Linked DNA regions of Homo sapiens. The protein of the gene in region 3 purifies or fractionates together with the protein of the main gene of each other region. This does not show direct contact. Each region holds a gene or a part of one and is shown on either strand. Other genes may lie near its edges.

Evidence for each region.
Region 1: the proteins of CD83 (region 3) and FIRRM purify together in Homo sapiens (affinity purification with mass spectrometry; 2 studies listed by BioGRID and IntAct, with this or other methods). This does not show direct contact.
Region 2: the proteins of CD83 (region 3) and THADA purify together in Homo sapiens (affinity purification with mass spectrometry; 2 studies listed by BioGRID and IntAct, with this or other methods). This does not show direct contact.
Region 4: the proteins of CD83 (region 3) and NDFIP1 purify together in Homo sapiens (affinity purification with mass spectrometry; 2 studies listed by BioGRID and IntAct, with this or other methods). This does not show direct contact.
Region 5: the proteins of CD83 (region 3) and CERK purify together in Homo sapiens (affinity purification with mass spectrometry; 2 studies listed by BioGRID and IntAct, with this or other methods). This does not show direct contact.
Region 6: the proteins of CD83 (region 3) and BTAF1 purify together in Homo sapiens (affinity purification with mass spectrometry; 2 studies listed by BioGRID and IntAct, with this or other methods). This does not show direct contact.
Region 7: the proteins of CD83 (region 3) and SLC7A2 purify together in Homo sapiens (affinity purification with mass spectrometry; 2 studies listed by BioGRID and IntAct, with this or other methods). This does not show direct contact.

Annotation. Positions count from the first base shown.
Region 1 is NC_000001.11:169,826,040-169,829,539, forward strand, and holds part of FIRRM (FIGNL1-interacting regulator of recombination and mitosis), read left to right. Parts: intron 1-53; exon of another isoform or gene 54-176; intron 177-1,011; coding exon 1,012-1,160; intron 1,161-1,671; coding exon 1,672-1,801; intron 1,802-3,223; coding exon 3,224-3,410; intron 3,411-3,500. UniProt on the Homo sapiens protein: Regulates PLK1 kinase activity at kinetochores and promotes faithful chromosome segregation in prometaphase by bridging kinase and phosphatase activities.
Region 2 is NC_000002.12:43,593,239-43,597,385, reverse strand, and holds the start of THADA (tRNA (32-2'-O)-methyltransferase regulator THADA), read left to right. Parts: upstream 1-1,347; 5' UTR 1,348-1,455; exon of another isoform or gene 1,456-1,739; intron 1,740-4,147. UniProt on the Homo sapiens protein: Together with methyltransferase FTSJ1, methylates the 2'-O-ribose of nucleotides at position 32 of the anticodon loop of substrate tRNAs.
Region 3 is NC_000006.12:14,131,272-14,134,771, forward strand, and holds part of CD83 (CD83 antigen isoform a precursor), read left to right. Parts: intron 1-248; coding exon 249-477; intron 478-2,377; coding exon 2,378-2,484; intron 2,485-3,500. UniProt on the Homo sapiens protein: Transmembrane glycoprotein predominantly found on the surface of many immune cells including dendritic cells or lymphocytes that plays various roles in immune response regulation.
Region 4 is NC_000005.10:142,115,279-142,118,778, reverse strand, and holds part of NDFIP1 (NEDD4 family-interacting protein 1), read right to left. Parts: intron 1-3,500. UniProt on the Homo sapiens protein: Activates HECT domain-containing E3 ubiquitin-protein ligases, including NEDD4 and ITCH, and consequently modulates the stability of their targets. As a result, controls many cellular processes.
Region 5 is NC_000022.11:46,731,753-46,735,252, forward strand, and holds part of CERK (ceramide kinase), read right to left. Parts: exon of another isoform or gene 2,860-3,500; intron 1-2,859. UniProt on the Homo sapiens protein: Catalyzes specifically the phosphorylation of ceramide to form ceramide 1-phosphate.
Region 6 is NC_000010.11:91,989,770-91,993,269, reverse strand, and holds part of BTAF1 (TATA-binding protein-associated factor 172), read right to left. Parts: intron 1,152-3,500; coding exon 961-1,151; intron 1-960. UniProt on the Homo sapiens protein: Regulates transcription in association with TATA binding protein (TBP). Removes TBP from the TATA box in an ATP-dependent manner.
Region 7 is NC_000008.11:17,552,588-17,556,087, reverse strand, and holds part of SLC7A2 (cationic amino acid transporter 2), read right to left. Parts: intron 1,529-3,500; coding exon 1,389-1,528; intron 1,143-1,388; coding exon of another isoform or gene 1,006-1,142; intron 1-1,005. UniProt on the Homo sapiens protein: Functions as a permease involved in the transport of the cationic amino acids (L-arginine, L-lysine, L-ornithine and L-homoarginine); the affinity for its substrates differs between isoforms created by alternative splicing.

The DNA.
Region 1 (3,500 bases), on a different chromosome or scaffold from region 3:
AGTAAATTCAGCATTCTGCCTATTTTAAAACAACTTTTTTTTTCTTTTTTGAGATGGAGTTTCGCTCTTGCTGTCTAGGCTGGAGTGCAATGGCGAAATCTCGGCTCACTGCAACCTCCACCTCCCAGGTTCAAGCAATTCTCCTGACTCCGCCTCCCAAGTAGCTGGGATTACAGGCATGTGCCACCATGCTTGGCTAATTTTGTATTTTTAGTAGAGACGAGGTTTCTCCATGTTTGTCAGGCTGGTCTTGAACTCCCAACCTCGCTTGCCTCGGCCTCCCAAAGTGCTGGGATTACAGGCGTGAGCCACCACACCCGGCATTTTTTTTTTTTTTTTCTGAGATAGAGTTTCACTCTGCCGCCCAGGCTGGAGTGCAGTGGCGCAGTCTTGGCTCACAGCAACCTCTGCCTTCTGGTTTCAAGTGATTCTCCTGCCTCAGCCTCCCGAGTAGCTGGGATTACAGGCATGCACCACCACAACCAGCTAATTTTTGTATTTTTAGTAGAGACGGGGTTTCACCATGTTGGCAAGGCTGGTCTTGAACTCCTGACCTCAGGTGATCCACCCGCCTCAACCTCCCAAAGTGCTGGGATTACAGGCATGAGCCACCACGCTCCGCCCAAAAACAACTTTTAATAGAAATAAGCTAGAATTTATCAGACATAGTCTTTTCAATATATATTTTTACTTTTGATTTAAGATTTAGATTTTTATAGTATTTTTAAGGATATTGTGAAAATGATATCAGTGCCTCAAAGCAACAAAGATTTCTCTAAGATTATCAACTTCTCATTTTATAGAATTATGGCTATGTTTAGTTTAGAGATCTTGATCCAATTCTGGTATCAATTCAGTACTTTGAATTTTGTTTTATAAAATGCACACTTATTTTTAAAAACTTAGTTTTTAATATATTTTTACTACCAGAACATCAGTTTATAGTACTTACTCTACCTAAAATTAGAAGATAGCTATTAATGAATGAGTTTTTTTTCTCTCCCTTCCCAGCAAGTTTCCTCCAAGCCTTTATGCTACCAGGATTTCTAAAGCACACCAAGAGGAAATAGCAGGTGCTTTCCTAGTGACACTGGATCCACTTATCAGTCAGCTGCTCACATTTCAGCCTTTCATGCAGGTGGTTTTGGACAGTAAATTAGGTAAGCTTCAAAATAGATTTAATGATAAATCATCTATTATGACATGTTAGAGACACTGATTTCCCCTAGCCATTCTTTTTTACAATTAAGAAATTTTTATTAAGTTTCTTTTACTTTCTTTTCTTGAAACATATTTCTTATTTAAAAATTATACCTGGCTGGGCACAGTGAATCACACCTGTAATCCCAGCACTTTGGGAGGCCGAGGTGGGCAGATCACCTGAGGTCAGGAGTTCAAGACCAGCCTGACCAATATGGTGAAACGCCATCTCTACTAAAAATACAAAAATTAGCTGGGTGTGGTGGCATGTACCTATAGTCCCAGCTACTCGGGAGGCTGAGACAGGAGAATCGCTTGAACCCAGACGGTGGAGGTTGCAGTGAGCTGAGATTACACCACTGCACTCCAGGCTGGGTGACAGAGTGAGACTCTGACTCAAACAAAAAAAAATTATTCCTTTACGTATTAATCAGATTTCTGCTGAATTAATGTGTTTTTATTACATGTAAGACCTGCCATGTGAACTGCAGTTTCCACAATGTCTTCTTCTGGTTGTTGTCATGGATAAGCTGCCATCTCAGCCTAAGGAAGTGCAAACCCTGTGGTGCACAGACAGCCAGGTCTCAGAAACGACAACCAGGTAGCAAACATGTTTTTATCCAGTCATATTACCAATGGTTAAGAAGGCCCTGTTGTTTGGAATGGTCTTGAAATTAAGTTTGTGTGTTTTTTTTTTAAATCAGATATTTATGTTAATAGTTATTGTGTAGACACACATATATATTGCTACTTTATAAAAGCAGATAAATATAAAATATATAAACCTATATTAGATGCTAAAAATATTTTAATATTTAATTTTGTTCAGTATTGCTTAATGGTCAGCATTATAAACATTGATTGTAATAGAGTAGCTATAAGTAGAAACATTTAAAAACGAGCTCTGATAAATAGAACACTAGACACTGTAAGGTATATCCTGGCAAATTTAACCTTTAATCATCTTCCTTGCCAACACCGTAGTCCAGGCTCTAGTTTCTTTCTTCCTGGATTACTCTGTGCTCTAATTTTTCACCTCTTCCTTTATCCCATTCTGCGTACCACGATGAGGTTAGTCTCCCTAAACCTGGCTCTGAGCTTCCTATTCTGCTCAAAAACTGAAACATAATGTTAGAACTTCTCAGCTTTGGATTTAAAGCCTGTCCCATACTATTGTCATCTTCTGCTTTTTCTCCTCATTCTTGTATTCATTTTCAACACATATTCCTTGCTTCTGTCACCCCCTTATTTGTGTGCTTTTACTCGTGCTTTTGTCTTCTTTACGTACTTACAATTTGAACAGTTTTGTTTTGTTTTTTTTTTGTTTGGAGCAGGGTCTTGCTCTGTCACCCAGGCTGGAGTGCAGTGGCATGACCATGGGTCACTGCAGCCTCAACTTCCTGGGCTCAAGTGATTCTCCTACCTTAGCCTCCTAAATAACTGGGACTAATGGTGTGTGCCAGCTGTCCTGGCTAATTTTTAAATTTTTTCTAGGGATAAGGTCTCACTATGTTGCCCAGGTCTTCCAACTCCTGGGCTCAAGTGATCTTCCCGCCTCGGCCTCCCAAAATGCTGGGATTACAGGCGTGAGCCACTACACCCTGCCCATAACTTGACTATTTTTAATTTGTTGTTTAAATCCTCTAAGTTTCTTCAACCATTTTAATCTTAAAATGACTCCTCGTCTGCTACTTATTTTCTGTTTTTCCATATAATATCTAATTTAGCTATTTAAGTTTCAAGTTCCTTGAGGAACTTTGACTTTGTGTAACTCAGTACCAAGATAAACAGTTGGTAAATGATGCAAAAAATGTCCAGGAAAATTCTCCTTTAAGGAATTTCTTTGACAGTGAATATATTTTCCTTTTATGTGTACATATTCACACGTGTTGGAAACTATTGCTGATTATACCTCTTGAAACATTTTCTGCTTAAACAACCTTCCATGTTACATATTATTATTATAATTGCTAATTAGTAAATGTTATTAATGTTGGGTTCAATGTTCTCAATTTCCCTGCAGGATATCTCTACTCAAAGCCGTTTTCTACAGTTTTGAGCAGTGTTCTGGTGAACTCTCTCTACCTGTTCATTTACAGGGATTAAAGAGTAAGGGGAAAGCTGAGGTGGCTGTCACCTTGTATCAGCATGTTTGTGTTCATCTGTGTACATTTATTACTTCCTTTCATCCCTCACTGTTTGCTGAACTGGTAAGCATATTACTTACTGTGCTAAGCTAAGGTTACACTTTTGCTTTCTCTTCATTGAAATTGTGATTCATATACAGAAGAAAATGTGGG
Region 2 (4,147 bases), on a different chromosome or scaffold from region 3:
CTGCACACACTCACCAGCTGACATGCACAACATAGTTCACAGCAGCAATGTTTAGAACAAAAACTGGAAATAATGCACATGTTAAGAGGCAGCAGGATGGATACATAATGAAGTATATTAAACAATGGAAAATTACGGTCCGGGCGCCATGGCTCACGCCTGTAATCCCAGCACTTTTGGAGACCGAGGCGGGCGAATCACGAGGTCAGGAGTTCAAGACCAGCATGAGCAACATGGTGAAACCCCGTCTCCACTAAAAAATACAAAAATTAGCTGAGCGTGGTGGCGCGCGCCTGTAATCCCGGTTACTTAGGAGGCTGAGGCAGGAGAATCACTTGAACCCGGGAGGCAGAGTTTGCAGTGAGCCGAGATCGCGCCACTGCACTCCAGCCTGGGCGAAGAGCACTACAGCCACCTGTAGGTGAATATGAAAAGCAATGCTGAAAGAAGCAAATTGCTGGAGAATACATACGCAATTCCAAAAGCTTCAAAATTGAACGAAACAAGATAGTGATACATACATTATGTGGTAAAGCTATAAAGAAAACCAAGGCAAGCTGATATAAAAAATTCAGAAAATAATTATTAAAAACTTAAGTCATTAACGTTTAGAGAACTGAAATGTCTCTATTTTCCAAATTAATACTCCTGATAATAGCATCAGGTCTTTCCTGATCTTGCCCACTGTCGCAGCTCCCAGTGACACCCCGTTATTGTATTTATTTTTCAAGGACTGAACCATCTGACAATTTGTATGTGCTGCGTAATACATGTATCCTCAGTAGGGGATAGCTTTCAAGGCTAGCGCTTGGCGACGCTCTGACAGTAGAGTTCATTATCTATTGAATGAATATATGCGCTTTGGCACACGTTGGTTCAGCACTACTCATTTTAGTCCGAATCCTTCTCGTGGCTTCCGTTCAGTCGCCGCCCAAACCCCTGCCCCATCTCGCAGGCTCTAAACTCCCTGGACTCGTTCCCGAGTCCCAGACGTAGTTTTCTCCTAGACTCTGCACTGGGCCAACAGAGTGGGAGAAAGGTGGAAGGTCTGGATTGGGAGAAAAGCGCTTCCCAGGCGTCCAAGCATGTGAAGAGAATGAGGTCTTTTCATTCAACAAGAGACCGTTGAATGAAGGCCCCTCAGCAACAAGGCCCGTCAGCCCTAACGCCATGAGGAACGCGCGGCGCTGACGGTACAGTGGCTGGTTAACTAAACCGGATTGCTACCGGCCACCCCGGTGACGTCACGACCTCCTCGAACTCCTGATTGGAGGAGCTGCGTTTGGTCAATTCTCGCGATGACTCCTCCAGGTTACCCCTCTCTCCCTCCCTTTGCCCTGACCCGGTAGTCGACCGTGGACCGCGCTGCGAGCCTCGGAGACGCCGTAGAAGGAGACCTGCTTCCGGGACTGGACCAGGCGCCTGCGACTCTTCTCAGACGCCGACGTGCACGAGGTTTGGCTCCCAGGTGTCCTGCCTGCCAGACCCGCGGTAGCTCGGCTCGGCCAGTTTTGCTAGGGCTGCCTGGCGAGCCACACCAATTCCCATCCTTTGGTATCGCCAGGATTCGGCGGCTGTGAAACTGATTTCCGGTCGCTAAGGTCTCCATGGAGACAGCACTTTAACCACTTTCTCCCACTGTCATTCCTCGACTCCACGTGGTTCAGAAATCGCCCAGAGAATGTTTGTGGGAGTCAGCCAGGAAGGTGTAGAGTGAAGCAGCGTTCTAAAGGGAAGCAGTAAGTGGGACCTAGGAGGAGTGTAATTTACTGGGCACCTTCTGGCCTTGCGGTAGACACGGGATTTACCCCCTTGGGGACCCTGGTTCTTCAGGACACACGTTTAGGCATCATTTGAGCAGGCATAATTACCGAGTCTGCTTTTGTGTAGCCCTCAGAATTGCAAGAGCAAATCCTCCTGCAAACTTGCTTACCTTTCACCAGAGAATAGTCTCCCTAGTTAGGTTTCCCAGTCTCTTCTGGCTTTGTACGATGGTCACTTTCTTAGGAAGCGTGCCTCTATTCCTCTAGATCTGACTATCCCTTTACAAATTATTCTGTTGTCGACACTTTCCTAGCTGCGTCCATTTTTGGTTAAGTGGTTGCTCACCTGCCATTACTGTATGGATTTCTTACTTCCCAAACAGACCATAGGTTCTTAAGATGTAGAATGTCACTTAGATGTAGAATGCATTTTAGGTACCAGATAGTCCACCTTCCTGCCCTTAAAGACATATATCCCTTCTAGAACATCTCTGACAAATGTTTGTTAATTAATTTGTTTATTCGTGAAGTGTTTGTTAAACACCTACTATGTGCCAGGCACTGGTTTGGAAATTGAGACTTGAAACATGAACAAAATAGATTAAAGTTGCTGCCTTCATTCAGTTTGCTACTAGGTGAGACAGACAATATACAAATTTACAAGTTAGGGTAATTTCTGGTACTAGTAAGTGCTATGAAGAAAATTAACGGAAATGGTGTCTACGTGTGTTGTATTGGTGAGATTTTAGATAGAGTGGTCATGGAAGGCTTTTAGAAGGTAATGTTGCAGCAGAAACATGAATGGTGAGAAGGAGTCAGTCTTGCAAAGATGTGGAATGAACATTAAGGGGCAGAGATACTGAGAAGTGTAAAGCCTCTTAGGTGGGAATAAGAGCATCAGGAAGTACAAAGCTCTTGAGATGGTGAAGAGGAGATTGGTTTGAGATGAAGAGTGGAGGAAGGCAGGGTCAGATTATTTAGGGCCTTGAAGGGCAAAATCTCAAGTATTTATTTATTTATTTATTTATTTATTTATTTGAGATGGAGTTTCGCTCTTGTCTCCCAGGCTGGAGTGCAGTGGCACGATCTCGGCTCACTGCAACCTCTGCCTCCTGGGTTCAAGCCATTCTCCTGCCTCAGCCTCCGGAGTAGCTGGGGTTATAGGCGCCTGCCACCACACCCGGCTAATTTTTGTATTTTTAGTTAGTGCAGACGGGGTTTCACCATGTTGGCCAGGCTGGTCTTGAACTCCTGACTTCAGGAGATCCACCCGCCTCGGCCTCCCAAAGTGCTGGGATTACAGGCACGAGCCCCCACTCCTGGCCTCAAGTTTGAATTTTATTCTAAGTGTATTTAGAAACCCTTGGAAAGTTTTAAGGAAGAGAGTAAGTAATTCAATTTGATGAGAGTTTTTTTTAAAGAGATTGCTTTGATGATTGTAAACAGAATGGGCTCTTTGGAGGTAAGTGTAGAAGTCAGGAGACCAGTTAGGGAGCTGTTTCAGGAGTCCAAGAGAAAATATTCAGTCATCTTCTCTTTGAATATTCCTGGTGTTGGAAAATTTCTTTGTTTAAAAGGTAGCCCAGTCCTTAGTGGGACCATAGAGCTTTTCCTTTGTATTGATCTGGAATCTGTTTCCCTGTAGCTTGTACTGACTTTTACTAATCTAATAGCAAGACAAGAAGTCTAAGGCTGGGCGCGGTGGCTCACGCCTGTAATCCCAGCACTTTGGGGGGCCGAGGTGGGTGGATCACGAGGTCAGGAGATCGAGACCATCCTGGCTAACATGATGAAACCCCGTCTCTACTAAAAATAGAAAAAATTAGCCGGGCGTGGTGGCGGGCGCCTGTAGTCCCAGCTACTCGGGAGGCTGAGGCAGGAGAATGGCCTGAACCCAGGAGGCTGAGCTTGCAGTGAGCGCAGATCGCGCCACTGCACTCCAGCATGGGCGAAGGAGCAAGACTCCGTCTCAAAAAAAAAAAAAAAAAAAAAGTCTGTAGTAGACAAATAAATCTATTCCCTTTTTCTCCAAAACAGTCTAGCAGCTGTTTTAAGGCTCTTGTTCTGTTGACTTTTTCTCCAGGCCAAACACCTTTGGTTAACTGAGCTGTTCTCTGAAGGAGGTGCTCTCTAGGTCCTTCAGAAATAGTTCCATTGTTTGTTATGGCTCCTTAGAGTATGGCCGCCAGCGCTGTACCTAATGCTCTACATGTCACCTGGCCTGTTTGAATAAAATCATGCACTCTGATATGGCTGACTTCTGTGGTTTTTGGCAGTCATCTTGGGCTGTTGAGCTGTTTCAAACCACGTTTTGCCTCTCCAGCCTCTCTTTCTGTGTTTTTTTCCCCTAAACTAAATGCAGCCCTTTGTATTTATTTCTGTTT
Region 3 (3,500 bases):
AATATAGGGTGGAAATTGGGATACTTATGATAGAATCATGAGATGTAGTCCTGATATATTCCGAAGATGTAGCCTTGGGAATTTTCATAGATCTTTCCTCCCCCAGAGGTCACACACACACAAAAGCATCACGTCTTGTTTTACAAACATAAGTTGAGGCTGGATCTTCTGAAAACAAAATGGAAACATTGGTGTCGAGTTGGAGTGCTTGCAGTGGACCGTGATGCGCTCTGATTCCTTCTTCACAGTTATTGGAGGGTGGTGAAGAGAGGATGGAGACACCCCAGGAAGACCACCTCAGGGGACAGCACTATCATCAGAAGGGGCAAAATGGTTCTTTCGACGCCCCCAATGAAAGGCCCTATTCCCTGAAGATCCGAAACACTACCAGCTGCAACTCGGGGACATACAGGTGCACTCTGCAGGACCCGGATGGGCAGAGAAACCTAAGTGGCAAGGTGATCTTGAGAGTGACAGGTGAGGTGACCTGCTGCACTTGTTTTCTTCTTGAACAATGCATGTGTACTTCCTTTAGGTCCTAAAATCGTTCCTCTCTTTTGGAGTGTAGCTCTAGAGCTTTGGATCACATCTGTGGCTGAAAGTGGAAATCCGCTGCAAGCATGTCACCATTTTCTCTTTCTGTGGCTTAAATGATGCCTTTTGTTTGACTTTTGCCCAACACTTGTTAGGGGCTGAGGGTGGAAATGATAAAAATGTGGTCACAGAGCCCCTGATTCCGTACAACCGTTGATTTCTCCTTCTGTCAGGGATCTGAAAGGAATTGGACTTCGGGTAATATTATTACACCTGCAAGAGTACAGTCCCTGTTTAAGGGGGCAGTGTGTGCTTTTTGCTTAGTGTTGTATGCACACACCTCCCTTAGGCCCTCCTGGATCTCCAGCCCTTCATCCTGGTTTCTTTGTTTCCTGGTACTTAGTACAACTGGCATGTTATGTATGGATTGATTTACTGTCTGTCTCCCCAAGAGAACAAGAACCTCTGCGTTTTCTTCTCTGATGTATCTGGGCACATAGTAGGCCCTCAATGAATATTCACCTGAATGAGAGGAACCTTGCAGAGGAGAGTGGAGAGGGCAGGCATGTCCTGCAGGGAGTGGAGAGAAAATGAAGAGAATAGCTGATTTTCTCTCCTTTTCCTCTTCCATGGCGATATTGCCTACAACTTAAGGGGTCAGAGTCTACAGTCACTTAGATCTGGCTCAAATATTAACTCTGCCTTTTGTTAGTGTGTGACCTTGAGCAAATCACGGATTGACACTAAGCCTCAGTTCTCTAATCTCTAAAATGGAAGTAACGTCTACAACATAGGCTTGTTGTGAAGGTTAAATGAGAAGTTGCGTTAAAATGCTGAGTGTAGTGCCCGGGATAGACTGAATGACCAATACATATTAGGGACCATGAGGACAATGGCTCTCATTACCCACGGCTGTGAGAATCCATCCCTCGACTGCTGCACAAAATGTCGAATCCATTTTCAGGGGTTGACATCTCTGGAGATCTAGCCATTGGCTCCAATGGCAGAACCCCCTCCGCTCACTTGCACTCCACCTGCTCCTGCCTGGGGCATCAAGCAGATTCTGTTTGCAAGCACACTATAGCCAAAGCTCAACTTGCTTCCCCAAACAGCACATTGGGTGTTGCACCTGAGTGGGGAGAGGCACCTCCCTTCATGTCTGTCCCTGGGCTAAAGGCCTCGCTGCTCTTACCCTCCCTTCGTGCTGCACCAAACCCTTTAACAGCCCTGAGGGAGTTGTTCTTCCACCCAACCATGCTGGCACCCTTGCCGAAAGAGCTTGAATGATTCTAGAAAAATCTGTTGACGTATTTGGCAATATCAGGGCAGCTCCCCTGCTTCCTTTCATAGTCCCTGAAACCTCCTGAGGTGAGGACACACCACAGTCTACCCAACAGTGATGAAGTTAAGATAATTTCTGGATTAACAAGTGGTGGTTCATCTGGTAGGAGGACAAAATAAGCCAGGAAAGGCTTGACATCCGAAGTGCAGGCAGACAGGCCGCAGGATAAGCCTGGACCAGCTGTCTGGCTCAGCCGCCTTGGTCCTTGGTCCTTGACCCTCTCTGAGCCTCGGCTCTTTCATCTGTAAAATGGGACTACTCAGGCCTGTTCTGAAGATTCGGAAAGATGCCATGTGAGAGTCGCATGCAGCCAGACACAGAGCGACAGTGCGCGCCGGCTGCTGCTGTCACCTTCACTGTCACTGTTACTGTCGTTCATCCTGATGGTGGGAAGAGGAGACAAGCAGGACTCCAGGACCAAGGAACAAAGCATTCTTAGCTTTTTTTCATGGTAGAAAAATCCTGTTAAAATGGCTTCACATGTCGCTTACTTTTTTAAAGGATGCCCTGCACAGCGTAAAGAAGAGACTTTTAAGAAATACAGAGCGGAGATTGTCCTGCTGCTGGCTCTGGTTATTTTCTACTTAACACTCATCATTTTCACTTGTGTAAGTATCTTCTTAAAACATCTTCTCTTATTAAAAGATTACCCAGGGCACCAATCCAAGTATCTCTTGCAGATAGTGCGAATCATTTAATAATGGTGAGAGAGATTATTCTTTGAACCCTGGACTTTTTGAGGCCCCTAGACTGGGAGAATCATTACAGGAAGCTCCCTGAAATATTTCCAGCTTTTGTCTAGTGGCTACGTTTAGAGCATTGTGGAAAAAAAAAACAAAGTAAGATATAGGAAGGACGTTTGGGAAATGACAAGGGGTTCTATGCAAGAGCAGAGGCCCTGTAGGCGCAGTGCTAGAAGTTGCAGCGCTGAGGGTCCCCCATCCCAGAGCAGAGGCCCCGCTCTTCCTGTGGGTGAGGGAGTGGGCCCCACTGCCCCAGGGATGCCAGGGGATAGATCAGCCTCCTTTGGCTGCCTTCAAACTATTTCTCGTGGGGGTTCTCCCCTTCTATTTTTGGTATTTCTGCCCATGCCTTAAGAATTAATCCCAAGAAGCCAGAGCAGTGAGGCACAGTGGGAGGCTTCCGGGGTGCAGGATGGCTGGCCGGTGCTCAGGCACCCTAGACATGCCCATGAGCTGTTGGTTGCAGGTTCTGGCTCAAAGCCCTCAGAGATTCTTTCTGCATGGCTGCTCACCTGTGTTGATGATGGTTGTGGGAGAGTAGGGCCACATGTGTGTCTGACCCCTCTAGGAAGTGATCTGCCCCCTTTGTCTCCATCCACCAGGCAGGGCTGGCTACCTAGGGGCCAGGACAGACTTCACCCAGGAGCTACCCCAGGACTGGTTCTTGCCACTCACTGTGTCCCTCTATTCACTTACTTGCCTCTCTGGCTGTGCACTCATCTCTCTGGTTTCTATTTTAGATACCAGTCAATCAGAGACTCCAGTGAGCACCTACTATGTTCAAGGCATTATGCTAGGCACTGTACAGGGCATAAAAAGGTGTAAGACATTGTTCCTGCCCTCAAGGAGCTTACAGTTAGGATGTTAGGGTTATTTGCGTA
Region 4 (3,500 bases), on a different chromosome or scaffold from region 3:
CTATACAGATATAAATACTAAACAAATTATCAGAGCAGAGACAAATGCCCCATGCAGGAAATTCCAAATAATTCATGTCAATACTTGGCCCTCAGCGAGGTGTTACATAACTCCCCACTCCTTATGTGTGGACCATGCATAGTGACTTCCTTCCCAAGAGTAAGTATGGAAAGTGGGGTAAAACGTATCTTTACAGAAGAGAAACCTGAGAAACACTACCTCAGCCAGGTGATCAAGGTCAATGTCAACAATGATAAGTCATGTTGAAAGTGTGCATTCTTGATATGATGTGATGAGAACAGCACTTTACCTGTGGTCTTCCCCCAAATCCACAGCCCCAGTCTAATCATGAGAAAAACATCAAACAAACCCCAATTGAGGGACATTCTACAAAGACCTGACCAATACTCCTCAAAACTGTCAAGCTCATCAAAAACAAGGAAAGTTTGAGAAACTCACAGCCAAGAAGAGCCTAAGGAGACAGGACGACTAAATGTAACATTACCACATTATATCATCCTGGATCCTGGATGGGATCCTGGAACAGAAAAAGGACATTAGGTAAAAACTTAGAAAATCTGAACAAAGTACAGACTTTAATTGATAACAATGTACTAATATTGGTTCAATAATTGTGAAAACCGTACCATACTGATATAAGATGCTAATAGGGAAAGCTGGGCATAGGGCATATGGAAACTCTCTACTGTCTTCTCAGTGTTTCTGAAAAATTAAAAATGTTTCAGCTGGGTGTGCTGGCGTGTGCCTGTGGTCCCAGCTACTTGGGAGGTCAGTGGGGGAATGATCGCTTGAGCCAAGGAGTTTGACGCCAGCCTGGGTAGCAACATAGCAGGAACCCATCTTAGGGGGAAAAAAGTTCCAAAAAGTAAAGTCTATTTGAAAGTACAGATTTATTTAAAAAACATTTAAAGCCAAGGAAAGGTTAAGAAGAAAGCCTGAAGATGGAGGGTTGCAGTGAGCCGAGACTATGTGGCTGCACTCCAGCCTGGGTGCAGAGTGAGGCCCTGTCTCAAAAAAAAAAAAAAAAAAGCCTGTAGAACACACACCAAACTTGAGGAGCAGTTACAGCTCTGCAAAGAGATAGGGAGGAAAGGGAAATCAAGTTTTTCTTTAGAAAGTTACTGTTTGAATCTAGCACATGAAGAATGTATTACTATTTAATACAAAATGCTTAATTTTAAATATCACATTTAAGCATCGAATGATAAAATGAAATCGGCCAGGCGCAGTGGCTCACACCTGTAATCCCAGCACTTTGGGAGATGGAGGCGGGTGGATCACGAGGTCAAGAGATCGAGACCATCTTGGCCAACATGGTGAAACCCCCTCTGCTAAAAATAGAAAAAATTAGCTGGGCGTGATAGCGGGCGCCTGTAGTCCCAGCTACTCAGGAGACTGAGGCAGGAGAATCACTTGAGCCCAGGAGGCGGAGGTTGCAGTGAGCTGAGATTTCGCCACTGCACTCCAGCCTGGCGACAGAGTGAGACTCCGTCTCAAAAAAAAAAAAAAAGCAAAAAAAGAAAATGAAATCATTATTAAACAGGCACCACTCCCTAAACCCTTATATCTCTATTCATAAATTGTCCAGTCTCCAGATAGACCTCCAAATTGTATTCAAGCCTTTGATTATGGTAAGTACTAATTAATATTGCTGAGATAAACTAATTTAAAAGACAAAAACAGAAAAATGGTCAAAGATTATGCTAAATTGCTCGGGGAGGGGGATAAGAAATATATTATACATATGGGCCGGGCACGGTGGCTCATGCCTGTAATCCCAGCACTTTGGGAGGCAGAGATGGGCAGATCACTTAAGGCCAGGAGTTCGAGACCAGCCTGGGCAACGTGGTGAAACCCCATCTCTACTAAAAATACAAAAATTAGCCAGGCGTGGTGGCATGCACCTGTAACACCAGCTACTTGGGAAGCTGAGGCACGAGAATCTCTTGAACCCAGGAGGCGGAGATTGCAGTGAGCAGAGCTCTCACCACTGCACTACAGCCTAGGTGACAGAACCAGACCCTGTCTCAAAAATAAATAAATAAATAAATAAAAAAGAAGAGGAGAGAAGAGAAAAGAAAAATACATATGAAGGTAGCCTGGGCATGGTGGCTCACACCTGTAATCTCTGTAAGCCAAGGTGGGTAGATCATTTGAAGTCAGGAGTTCGAGACTAGCCTGGCCAACATGGTGAAACCCCACCTCTACTAAAAATACAAAAATTAGCCGGGCCTGCTGGCGGGCACCTGTAGTCCCAGCTACTCCAGAGGCTGAGGCAGGAGAATGGCTTCAAACTGGAAGGCAGGGGTTGCAGTGTGCCAAGATTGCGCCACTGCACTCCAGCCTGGGGAACAGAGCAAGACTCTGTTGAAAGAAAGAAAGAAAGAGAGAGAGAGAGAGAGAGAAAGAAGGAAGGAAGGAAGGAAGGAAGGAAATAAATAAATAAATATACATATGAAGGGAACTGCATTAATAAGAAAATATTTCACTAGGAATGCTCTTAAACTTGATCAGTGCTAGTATTTAGGACATTTAATATAAATTATGTTATTCAGAAAAATCATGAGTAAGCCTTATTGTAACAGCAGGATGTGCTAAGTGATATCAAGTTACACTTGCTTTACTACCACTCTTGGTCAAGTTAACAAGACATATCATACAGTCATCCCTCAGTATCCACTGGGAATTGGTTCCAGGACTCCCCACAGATACCAAAATGGGAGGATGCACAAGCCTCTGACATAAAATGGTATAGTATTTACACATAACCTACCTCATGTACTTTAAATCATCTTTACTTATAACACTTAATACAATGTAAATGCTATGTAAAATAGCTGTTATAGTGTATATTTTACTTGCACTATTATTTATTATTGTATGGTTATTTTCCCCTATTTTCAATCTGCAGTTGGTTGAATCTGCGAATGTAGAACCTGTGGATACCCAGAGCCTACTCTAACTCATACCCCCACCTAGCCAACCACTAGAAGCAATTACCACTGGAAAGTATGTCAAGCCCAAAAAATTTCATACATGATGTTTGCCAGTTGCCTAGCTTATTGGCAACAATGACTTGAAAAAAAGATAAACCATCATGCCAATTTTCAGTATGAATGGAACAGAAGTATTAAAGTTGCTTTATCTAAATTGTCCATTATTATAAGAATATAGGCCGGGCGCAGTGGCTCACACCTGTAATCCCAGCACTTTGGGAGACCGAGGCGGGCAGATCACTTGAGGTCAGGAGTTCAAGACCAGCCTGGCCAACATGGTGAAACCCCATCTCTACGAAAAATACAAAAAATTAGCTGGGCGTGGTGGTGGGCACCTGTAATCCCAGCTACTCAGGAGGCTGAGGCAGGAGAATCGCTTGAACCTGGGAGGCGGAGGTTGCAGTGAGCCGAGATCGCGCCATTGCCTTCCAGCCTGAGCAAGAAGAAAGACACTCCATCTCAAAACAAACAAACAAAAAAGAA
Region 5 (3,500 bases), on a different chromosome or scaffold from region 3:
GGGGGAGGTCAGGAATGCAAGCCAGGCCACAGGCACGCATGGGCGAGCAGTGCCTGGAAGAACTTTGTAGCAGGGCAGGGTGTCTAAACATCAATGGGGCACACAGGCTGGCTGTCAGGACGGGCCAACGGCACTGGAGAAGGGATTAGTGACCCTCAGGGTGCTCTCTAAACTTCCAATCCCCATCATCCAGGGTTCAGCCGCCGGGGTGCTCCCTAAAGAAATTCAAAAGGCAGCAGGAGGGGTCGGGAGGGGAAGACCGGGGCCAGCTGGAGGCAGAAGTCATCTGACCCAGTCTGTGGCAAAAAGGGGACCAAGGTCAGCGAGAAAGGAGAGAAGAGGTATGGGATCCGGACAGCCGAATCGAGAACCCAGCAGACGTGTGGGATCCGGACAGCCGAATCGAGAACCCAGCAGGCGGTGAGGGTGGGCCACTGGCCTAGGAGAGAGGCCGAGTAGCTGGAGCTTGTATGCGGGTGACAGGCTGGCTGTCTCCAGGACAGAGGAGAACTCGTGCCTGGAAGTCCACGCTGGGCTAATCGCTGAAGCCATTAAGTTGAGATGCATCCTGGACCAGCTACAGGTTCCTGAGATAACCCTCAAAAGGCAGGACTCAGCTGCATTTCTCATAGAAAACGCTGTTATGCAAAAATCTAGACTGTTAGAGAAGAAAAATAAATTGGGTGGGGGGGACGGGAAGTAAAACACATTAGGAGTTTCTTAAACACACAGAAAGTGTATCTTCTCGAGTATGAAAGTTTCTTAAATACTGGTGGTTTAATTTCTCTGGGATAGATAATCAAAAATGGAATTGTTGGGTCAAAGGATATCACTTTTTTTTTTTTTTTTTACAGTTTGAAAACACTGCCAGATTACTTTCCAAAAACACCCTAGCAGTTCCCACTTCCCATTCACCGGGTCTGCCAGCCCAGAAGCGTCCTGAAACTTCCCCAGCACAGAGCTGTGCTTTCGCCCTTCCCCATCCCTTGCTGGTTGAGAGCAGCATCTCATCATTGCCTTGGGTCAGTATCTACTCAGACGCTCAGCATCCACTTCCGAATGTTTTCTTCCGTGAATCGCCTACTTATATCCATTGCCATTTGTCTAATGGATTGTCTGCCTTTTTTCCTATCAATTTTTATGTAAGTTTAAAATGTTCAAAAAATGTTAACCTGGCCAGGCGCGGTGGCTCACGCCTGTAATCCCAGCACTTAAGGAGGCCAAAGAGGGAGGATCACGAGGTCAGGAGATTGAGACCATCCTGGCTAACACAGTGAAACCCCATCTCTTCTAAAAATACAAAAAATTAGCCGGGTGCAATGGTGGGTGCCTGTAGTCCCAGCTACTCGGGAGGCTGAGGCAGGTGAATGGTGTGAACCCGGGAGGCGGAGCTTGCAGTGAGCTGAGATCACGCCACTGCACTCCAGCCCTGGGCGACAGAGTGGGACTCTGTCTCAAAAAAAAAAAAAAAAAAAAAATTAACCCTTTCTCTATCCTATTTGTTGCAAATATCACCCCCATCATTTTTTATTTTTATTTTATTATTATTATTATTATTTGAGATGGAGTCTCGCCGTGTTGCCCAGGCTGGAGTGCAGTGGTGCAATCACAGCTCACTGCAACCTCCGCCTCCCAGGTTCAAGAGATTCTCGTGCCTCAGCCTCCTGAGAGGCTGGGATTATAGGCGCACGCCAACATGCCTGGCTAATTTTTGTATTTTTAGTAGAGACAGGGTTTCACCATGTTGGGCAGGCTGGTCACGACCTCCTGACATCAAGTGATCCACCCGCCTCGGCCTCCCAAAGTGCTGGGATTACAGGTGTGAGCCACCACGCCCGGCCCTTATCTTTTTTTTTAAATTTATGATATCTTACAAAAGAAATTTTAAAATTATTTCGTCAAATAATCTAGCTTTTTCTTTATTCTTTCTGGATTCCATCTTGGTTAGGAGAGCCTTTTCCCATTCCAATATTATAAACTGTCCTCTATTTTCTTGTAAGAATTTACAGCCAGGTGCAGTGGCTAACGCCTGTAATCCCAACACTTTGGGAGGCCGAGGCAGGCAGATCATCTGAGGTCAGGAGTTCGAGACTAGCCTGGCCAACATGGTGAAACCCTGTCTCTACTAAAAATACAAAAATTAGCTGGTGGCAGGTGCCCATAATCCCAGCTACTCAGGAGGCTAAGGCAGGAGAATCACTTGAACCCGGGAGGTGGAGGTTGCAGTGAGCCGAGACCTTGCCACTTCACTCCAGCCTGGGAAACAGAGGAAGACTCCAAAAATATAATAAAATATGTTATATATACATACATACATATATATATATATATATATACATTTTCCTATAATCCAGCTTTCTACTCTTAAATATGCACCCAAGAGGAGCAAAAGCATAGCCCCTAAAGGGTCAGGGTGTCTTTATCCACATAGTCAAGGTGAATGGACTGCAAACTGTCCAGAAGCCCATCAGCAGGTGAACGGATACACTAGTGCACCCACACAATGCAATATGACTTAGTAACCAGAAAGAAGGAACTGCTGACATGATGAATCTTAAAAAAAACAAAATGAGATAAAGCAGCCGGGCACAAAGACGTGCACATGGCATGATTCCATTTACATGAGATAAAGCAGCCGGGCACAAAGACGTGCACATGGCATGATTCCATTTACATGAGATAAAGCAGCCGGGCACAAAGACGTGCACATGGCATGATTCCATTTACATGAAACTCTATTAGCATCGTGCCTGTCCCTGGTGAGAAAACAGCCCAGGGCCCAGGAGAAGGTGCTGGGCTGCTGCGATCCGGGTGATGTTTACACAGGTGCACACAATTATCAAAATTTAACCAACTATGTGCCTTAAAATGTCTGAGTTTTATTGCATGCAATTTAGACCTTGATAAAATCGATTTTTAAAAATCATGTCTTAGGAGAGGAATTAGTAGCGTGGAAAACACTCTGCAGTATGTTTTCTCAGCTTTTCTTTCATGCATATTTACATATACACAAATACCAAATATTAATCACGTCTAAGTCGAAGAGTGACTTTTTGTGTATGCTTTTCTGTGTTTTCTCGATATTATTAAATCAACATGACTTACTTTTGTAAGCAGGAAAAACATTTTTTTAAAGTATCTGTGGCATGCCTATGTTTTGCCAGGCACTTTGCAGGGTGTGCTGAGGACACGCTTTATAAACACAGTACTGACCTGCCCAACGAGTTCACCACCAGCCTGGGACATCCCAAGTGGGGTTGGTGGAAGGAAGGGGAGGATCCTCCCACAAAGGTAGAGCCTGGGCAGTAGTCCCCTCACCCCCCAACACACACACACACACACACACACTCTTCCCATTCCCAACTCTAAAGGAATAAATGCAGGGTTTGTCTAAGTGTGTTTTGCGACAGTCAGGGGAAATAACCCAGATATCAACTCAGTGTTTCCAGTTCAACGAGCATGACCCACTTCAAGTTCCTGTTTTCGTCCTGCCCTACTTC
Region 6 (3,500 bases), on a different chromosome or scaffold from region 3:
TAATTCTTATTCAGCAGTAATTACGGTCCATAAATCTGTCCCCCCAAAAAGATATTTATATTTTTAAAATTATGTTTAATTGGAGGAATAACTATGCAAACTAGAGATATAAATATCAAAATCACAGTAAAATTTTTATTACAATTATTATAGGGAAATATTGTCAATGAAAAAGACTTTACAGAATGTTTTAAGGGAAATATAGATAAGCTGTTGATTTTAAAAAGAAACTTAAAAGGGGTTTATATTTTACAGAAACATGTCTTTTAGTATTGATGGTTTACTGCTGAACTGAGGTACATTCCTATGCCTTGCATTCCAAAGAACTAACTAGAGCATTCATTCTATTGCTAATAATGTGACTGTCAGATTTTCAAAACAAAACACTTTTTAAAAACCACTGCTTGTTAAGACTGTACGGTGTAACAGGTGGACCAATGGGAGATAATGGAAAGCCTGAATAGACCCTCACACATATGAAGCCATTAACAGAGGTGCCATTATAAATCAGAGAGGAAAGGATTCAATAGTGGGATAACTGGCTGTTCATATGAAAAATAAATTTAGAACCCTACCTCACACTAAGCATTTAATAAATATCAAATTGACTAAAAAAGTCAGGTGGGTTGCAATTATATGACATTTGTGCATTGAAAGGACAGAGAAAAGTTAGCTTTCACTATTATTGAGCACCTTCTCTACAGTCACTGCTATAGGACTGAATTAGTTTACAAGGCTGTCTTGCCTAGGAAGATAAAGTTAAGCTGGTAAAAATTACAAGAGACATGAGATATTTGAAGTTTGCCGTTTTTCTGGATCATATTGTTGGAGTACTCCAAAAATTAATCCCATTTCTTTACTTAAAAACAACTCTGGAAGCTAATACAACTTAGTTCTCAATTTGTAAGTCAGATATTTGTTTAAAAATCAAAGCATTAAAAAAAAAAAAAAACTACTTACCTCATCAAGTTCAACAAGAATATTTCCACTACTTCCTGCAGGAAGATCTGCTATTTGAGCTTTTACTGCTTTGGGGGTAGGACCTCGCCTACTTGTGATAGCAAAGGCAGCTTTCTGGTGCCTGTAGAGTGTAATTATACCTCTGTGCTTGGTGACAGTATGGTGCATTCCATCTTTTTCTGAGGTGGATCCTAATAAGAAAAAAGTTAAACAACCTTTTAATCATAATATTGGTGATACCAAATGTTTTCAGCTCCATAAGAGATAAAACATTTTTAAACTATGTCTTTTAGGCCTCAACTTTTATAGGCCAATGACATTTTCCTTAGACAATGAAATGGCAATAAAATAGTCTATTTGCATAGGATTTATACCTAATACAATCCAGGTTGCAGAGCCATCTGAACAATGAGAAACAGCACATGAAAAAATTATTGTGACTTCAGTTAATGTGTTTGTGTGTGTATATATGTGTGTATATATATATATATATATATATATATATATATATACACACACACACACACACACACATATATATAATTTTTTTTTTCTGAGACAGGGTCTTTCTCTGTTGCCCAGGCTGGAGTGCAGTACCACCGTCTCAGCTCACTGCAACCTCCACCTCCTGGGCTCAAGAGATCCAATCCTCCCACCTCAGCCTCCTGAGGAGTTAGGACTACAGGCACACACCACCACACCCAGCTAATTTTATATTTTTTGAAGAGATAGGGTTTCACCATGTTGCCCAGGCTGGTCTCAAACTCCTGAGCTCATTCCATCTGCCCGCCTCGGCCTCCCAAAATGCTGGGATTATAGGCATGAGCCACCATGCCCAGCCTATTAATTTTTTGTTGTTATTTTTGAGATGGAGTCTCACTCTGCCACCTAGGCTGGGGTGCAGTGGTGCAATCTTGGCTTACTGCAACCTCCACTTCCCAGGTTCAAGGGGACTCTCATGCCTCAGCCTCCTGAGTAGCTAGGATTACAGACGCACGCCACCACGTCCGGATAATTTATATATATATATATATATATTTATATTTATATTTATATATTTTTTTGAGACGGAGTCTCGCCCTGTCGCCCAGGCTGGAGTGCAGCAGTGCGATCTCGGCTCACTGCAAGCTCAGCCTCCCAGGTTCACGCCAGTCTCCTGCCTCAGCCTCCTGAGTAGCTGGGACTACAGGTGCCTGCCACCATGCCCGGCTGATTTTTTGTATTTTTAGTACAGACGGGGTTTCACCATGCTAGTCAGGATGGTCTCGAACTTCTGACCTCGTGATCCACCCGCCTCGGCCTCCCAAAGTGCTGGGATTACAGGCGTGAGCCACTGCACCCAGCCTAATTTTTATATATTTTTTTAGTAGAGATGGGGTTTCACCATGTTGACCAGCCTGGTCTTGAACTCCTGGCCTCAAGTTATCTGCTCACCTCGACCTCCTAAAGTGCTGGGATTACAGGCATGAGCCACTGCCTGGTCCCTGGCCTATTAATTAATTAATTATTATTTTTTGAGACGGAGTTTCACTCTTGTTGCCCAGGCTGGAATACAATGGCGCGATCTCAGCTCACCGCAACCTCCGCCTCCCAGGTTGAGGCCATTCTCTTGCCTCAGCCTCCCGAGTAGCTGGGATACAGGCATGCACCACCATGCCCAGCTAATTATATATTTTTAGTTGAGATGGGATTTCTCCATTTTGGTCAGGCTGGTCTTGAACTCCCGACCTCAGGTGATCCGCCTGCCTCGGCCTCCCAAAGTGCTGGGATTACAGGCGTGAGCCGCCGTGCCTGGCCTGGCCTATTACTTTTTAAAAAATTATTGTGCCTAAGCATAACGAGAAATATTAAAAAATATCTCAAGCAAGTTCTCTTTAAAAGCAGAGTCACCATGAATTAAAAAAAAAAAATTGGTCACTGCAAAATGATGCTGCCTTATATAGCAATGGACCAGGGGGGTAAGAGGGGGGAGAATGACCCCAATGTATTTTTAAGATGTTAATATTCAAAATGTCCACCTTTCTTCTTCTAGTTCATAAACATATTTTTCAAGATCTATGCTGCACCAAAGCTGTAAGTCTACTACATTTCAAATAATTTGTTTTCCCAAAATCTTGTTAACAATCACACATACAAAAAGCACATAGGACTGAGTCATATGAATAAAACACTGGTCTTTAAGACCTGCCTACAGAGGGCAGTTCTCATTTTCCATACAAATTCTCCAAGTGAAAACAAAAAAGTTGGTTAAGTATTATTTACTAAAAGTACTAAAAGTTCACTAATCTCATAAAACATGCACTAAATTAGGGAAACGAGAGATTTTATAATGACTTTTTCAGTCAATAGGGTTGCTCCTTTGGTTAAGGAAAAAAAATTCATTAAATAACATTTGATACAATTACCTTTTCTAGCTTGATACAGTAAACCATATAATGATGGTTTTGAAGGCAAAGGTAAGGGTGAACACCTGTCTTACAGATTTCAGTCACCTTATATCAGCTATCAGATCTTCCATGAATGGCTTTTTTGAACTTACA
Region 7 (3,500 bases), on a different chromosome or scaffold from region 3:
TTATAAGAAAATGTTTACAAAGTGAAAGTGTTTAAACAAATACATTCTGACCCTGAAAAAAATTCCATTTTACACAGAATGAAGCACTAGCTTTTTCTAAGCTAATTTCCTAACAATTCAGAGCCTCAACGAAATTGTCATTTTGGTTTGAATTTATAGTGCCAAGATTGTTCATTATTTTATGTATAAAGCTTGCAAAAGTCTTTCTTTTGCTTCCTGTAACAGTACCTTTAAGGCCATTGTCTGGATCTAGAATCTCACTGAAATTTTCTGCATGAGATAAGGATCTGGCCAAAGGTATTTTACATGGATATTAAGATGTGCCAAAAGACTAGCAATCTGGATTTTCTGAACATAATTTAAGTACCAAAACTGTTGAAAGGAAAAATAGATTCCTGATGGAGTTGGAGAGGATATGTATGTTCCTAACTGTTAGATGGCTGCGATGGCCCTGGAAGCAAGGATGCCCACCATACTGAGGATGGCGATCACAAGGGCCAAGCATAAATCATCTTGAATATTTCTTATTAATAATGGGTAAAGCTTAATTTACCCTATGGTCCCTTAGCAATATTCGACGTATATCCTAGACCAAAAAATTGAATCATTATTTTAAAATTAATATTTCAAAAATTAAGCAAGAATTCCTTAATCAGAAGTTTATGTATCAATAATATAATTTTGTGTGCTAGTTCATCAGAAAAGCAATTCATAATATTTAGTGAAGAGCTATTATAACCCTTTGTACATTTGTTAGAGCCCAAAAGATTAAAATAACAAAACAGTAAAAAAAAAATCCCAAAGGGTCAATTAAGAATGAACTTCATTATACCACCGCCACCACAATTTTCACATGTTAATCCCAATGCTTGTATACTAATTTTTATCAGTGATTTTGTTTTTTTTAACTTACATGCACAGCATGCAGACCCTCTTTATAAGTCCATGCATGCGAATTAAATGTTCCAGTCTAATGCTCAAGAAACCTAAGTTTGTAAAGCTTACCAGAAATGACCCCTGCAGTCAACGTGGCAGCAACTGGTGACTGCCTCTTACTCACTCTGGCAAGAAATCTAAACAGTAAGCCATCCCGGGCCATGGCAAACAGAATTCGGGGTAAAGGAAACATAGAGCCCAGAAGACTAGAACAGAAAAATTCAAAATCCACACATGAGTTATTTTAAGGATTATTCTAGACAGGTATAGACAGGTAAAGACTGGACACACGAAAATGCAGAACCAAAAAATTCAAAATAGGAAACACTCACAAAAAAGTGACTGAACTTCTTGGAAATCAAAAAAGAAAACCACCTAGCTTTGTATTTTTAATGCAGAGTCCTTGATGAAAAAGATCCCCCGTTTCTGAAGAAAAGTCAACTCTCTCTCACCTGCCACTGCACCCGATGATAAAGTAGCAATTATTGGTGTCTTCGTTTTGGAATTGATTTGAGCTAGACATTTGAAAAGCAACCCATCCTCCGCCATAGCATAGATTACACGAGGCATTGGGAAAATGGATCCAAGAAGACTGAATAAAAAGCAAACACATGCAGTATGGCAAACATTCATGCAAGATTACATCCCCGAACGGAAATAAAATAATTGTATAATATTCAGCATGACAGTTGTAATTATGAAGTCATATTATTTATATTAATAATTATGTCATTATTTTTTAAATGCACTATGATAGGGCATTTAAAAAATTTGCTAATATTTACCATTGTGCTATTCATTATTCTGTTACAGATAAGTACGCAGCAAAATTATCAGACTAAAAACAATATTGCAAGTAATTTGTGTGTACCCACAATTATTACCAAATTAAAACTAAATAATTAAGACTTAACCAAACCAATATTATTAAGACATTTTTAGCAGCAACAACTTGGAAAATAAAATTACTAATTTGATATGTAATTAAAGAAAAGACTAAGTAATTTTATTTCATAAGCAATAGTTGCAACCTTTATTCAATAATGATATATTTTTTGCATTTATTGTACCAGTATTTTTTCTCATACACCCTGATCTTGGATCAAGTTAGTAATAATCCCCAGCATCATAAGATAATCAAGGTAGAAGAAGGGAAAGAAGATCAATTTACGTAAATGTAGTATACAGATGTGGCCACAGTGAAAAGTTAGCAGCTGAAGTTTAGTAAGACAGTTTTTGCTTGAGATGTTCGGAAGTACTTTTGTTTACTAGCTGCACCATTTCACACATTACTTAGTTGTGAAAAATAACCATGTAAGAGAAAACAAAAAAAGTATTTTATTTAAAAATCCTTCTTATTGATTTATTTTATTTGCGACAGGGACTCACTCTGTCACCCAGGATGGAGTGCAGTAGTACGATCATAGCTCACTGTGCCCTCAAACTCCTGGGCTCAAGCGATCCTCCCACCTCAGTCTTTCAAGTAACTGGGACTGGGACTAAAGGCGCATGCCACCATGCTCAGCTAATTTCTTGAATTTTTTGTGGAGACCGAGCCTTGCTACGTTGCCCAGGCTGGTCTTGAACTCTTTGCCGTAAGTGATCCTCCCGCCTCGGTGTCCCAAAGTGCTGGGACTACAAGAGTGAACCACTGTGCCTGGCCCTTCTTTATCTTTAATAAGGCTCTGTTGAGCTTGGCCATAGATGAATCTTTGTCCATCCCTTCTAAGGCCATGGTAGCACGGTATCTTCACAGTTCAGACTTTTGAAATTACTTGAAGCTATTCAAAATAAACCTCAAGGCCGGGTGTGGTGGCTCATGCCTGTAATCCCAACACTTTGGGAGGCTGAGGTGAGAGGATAGCTTGAGCCCAGGAGTTCAAGACCAGCCTCGGGAACTTAGCGAGACCTCCTCTCTATAGAAAATAAAAAATTAACCAGGTATGGTGTTACGTGCCTGTATCCTAGCTACTCAGGAGGCTGAACTGGGGAGATCACTTGAACCCAGGAGTTCGAGCCTCAGTGAACTATGATTATGCTCTGCACTTCAGCCTGCTTGACAGAGCAAGACCCTGTCTCAAATAAATAAATAAACCTCAACACTAGCAGATGGCTGAGAAACCAAGAGTGTCTAATTGCTACTCAATATTGTCTTAACTAGAAAATAAAAGGGAGTTTGAAGGGAAAAAATAAAGCTAGGCTGGTGAATTACACTAAAAGACTTCTTTTTCTAGTTTCAGACTTTCAGAACCTTATTTTCAGTTAAAAAATTACTAATCTGCCAAAAAGATTAATTTTCTCTTTGCAAGACTCTTCTACCATGTGGCATGATAAAAAACTAGAACGAAATATCTGACTCATATGTTAATTGAAATAAGGGTAGCTGAGGAAACCTGGGAAATGAGTTCTAAAGTATTCAAACAAGCAGCTACTGAAAATCTGAAAACTTGGGATTCAATGACCCTTTTCCCTTCACATATTTATATGAATTTCCACCATTTATTTAAGAATGATAATTTCTATTTCTAGACCAACTTCACTCTGATTGGTGCTTCCCTTCACAT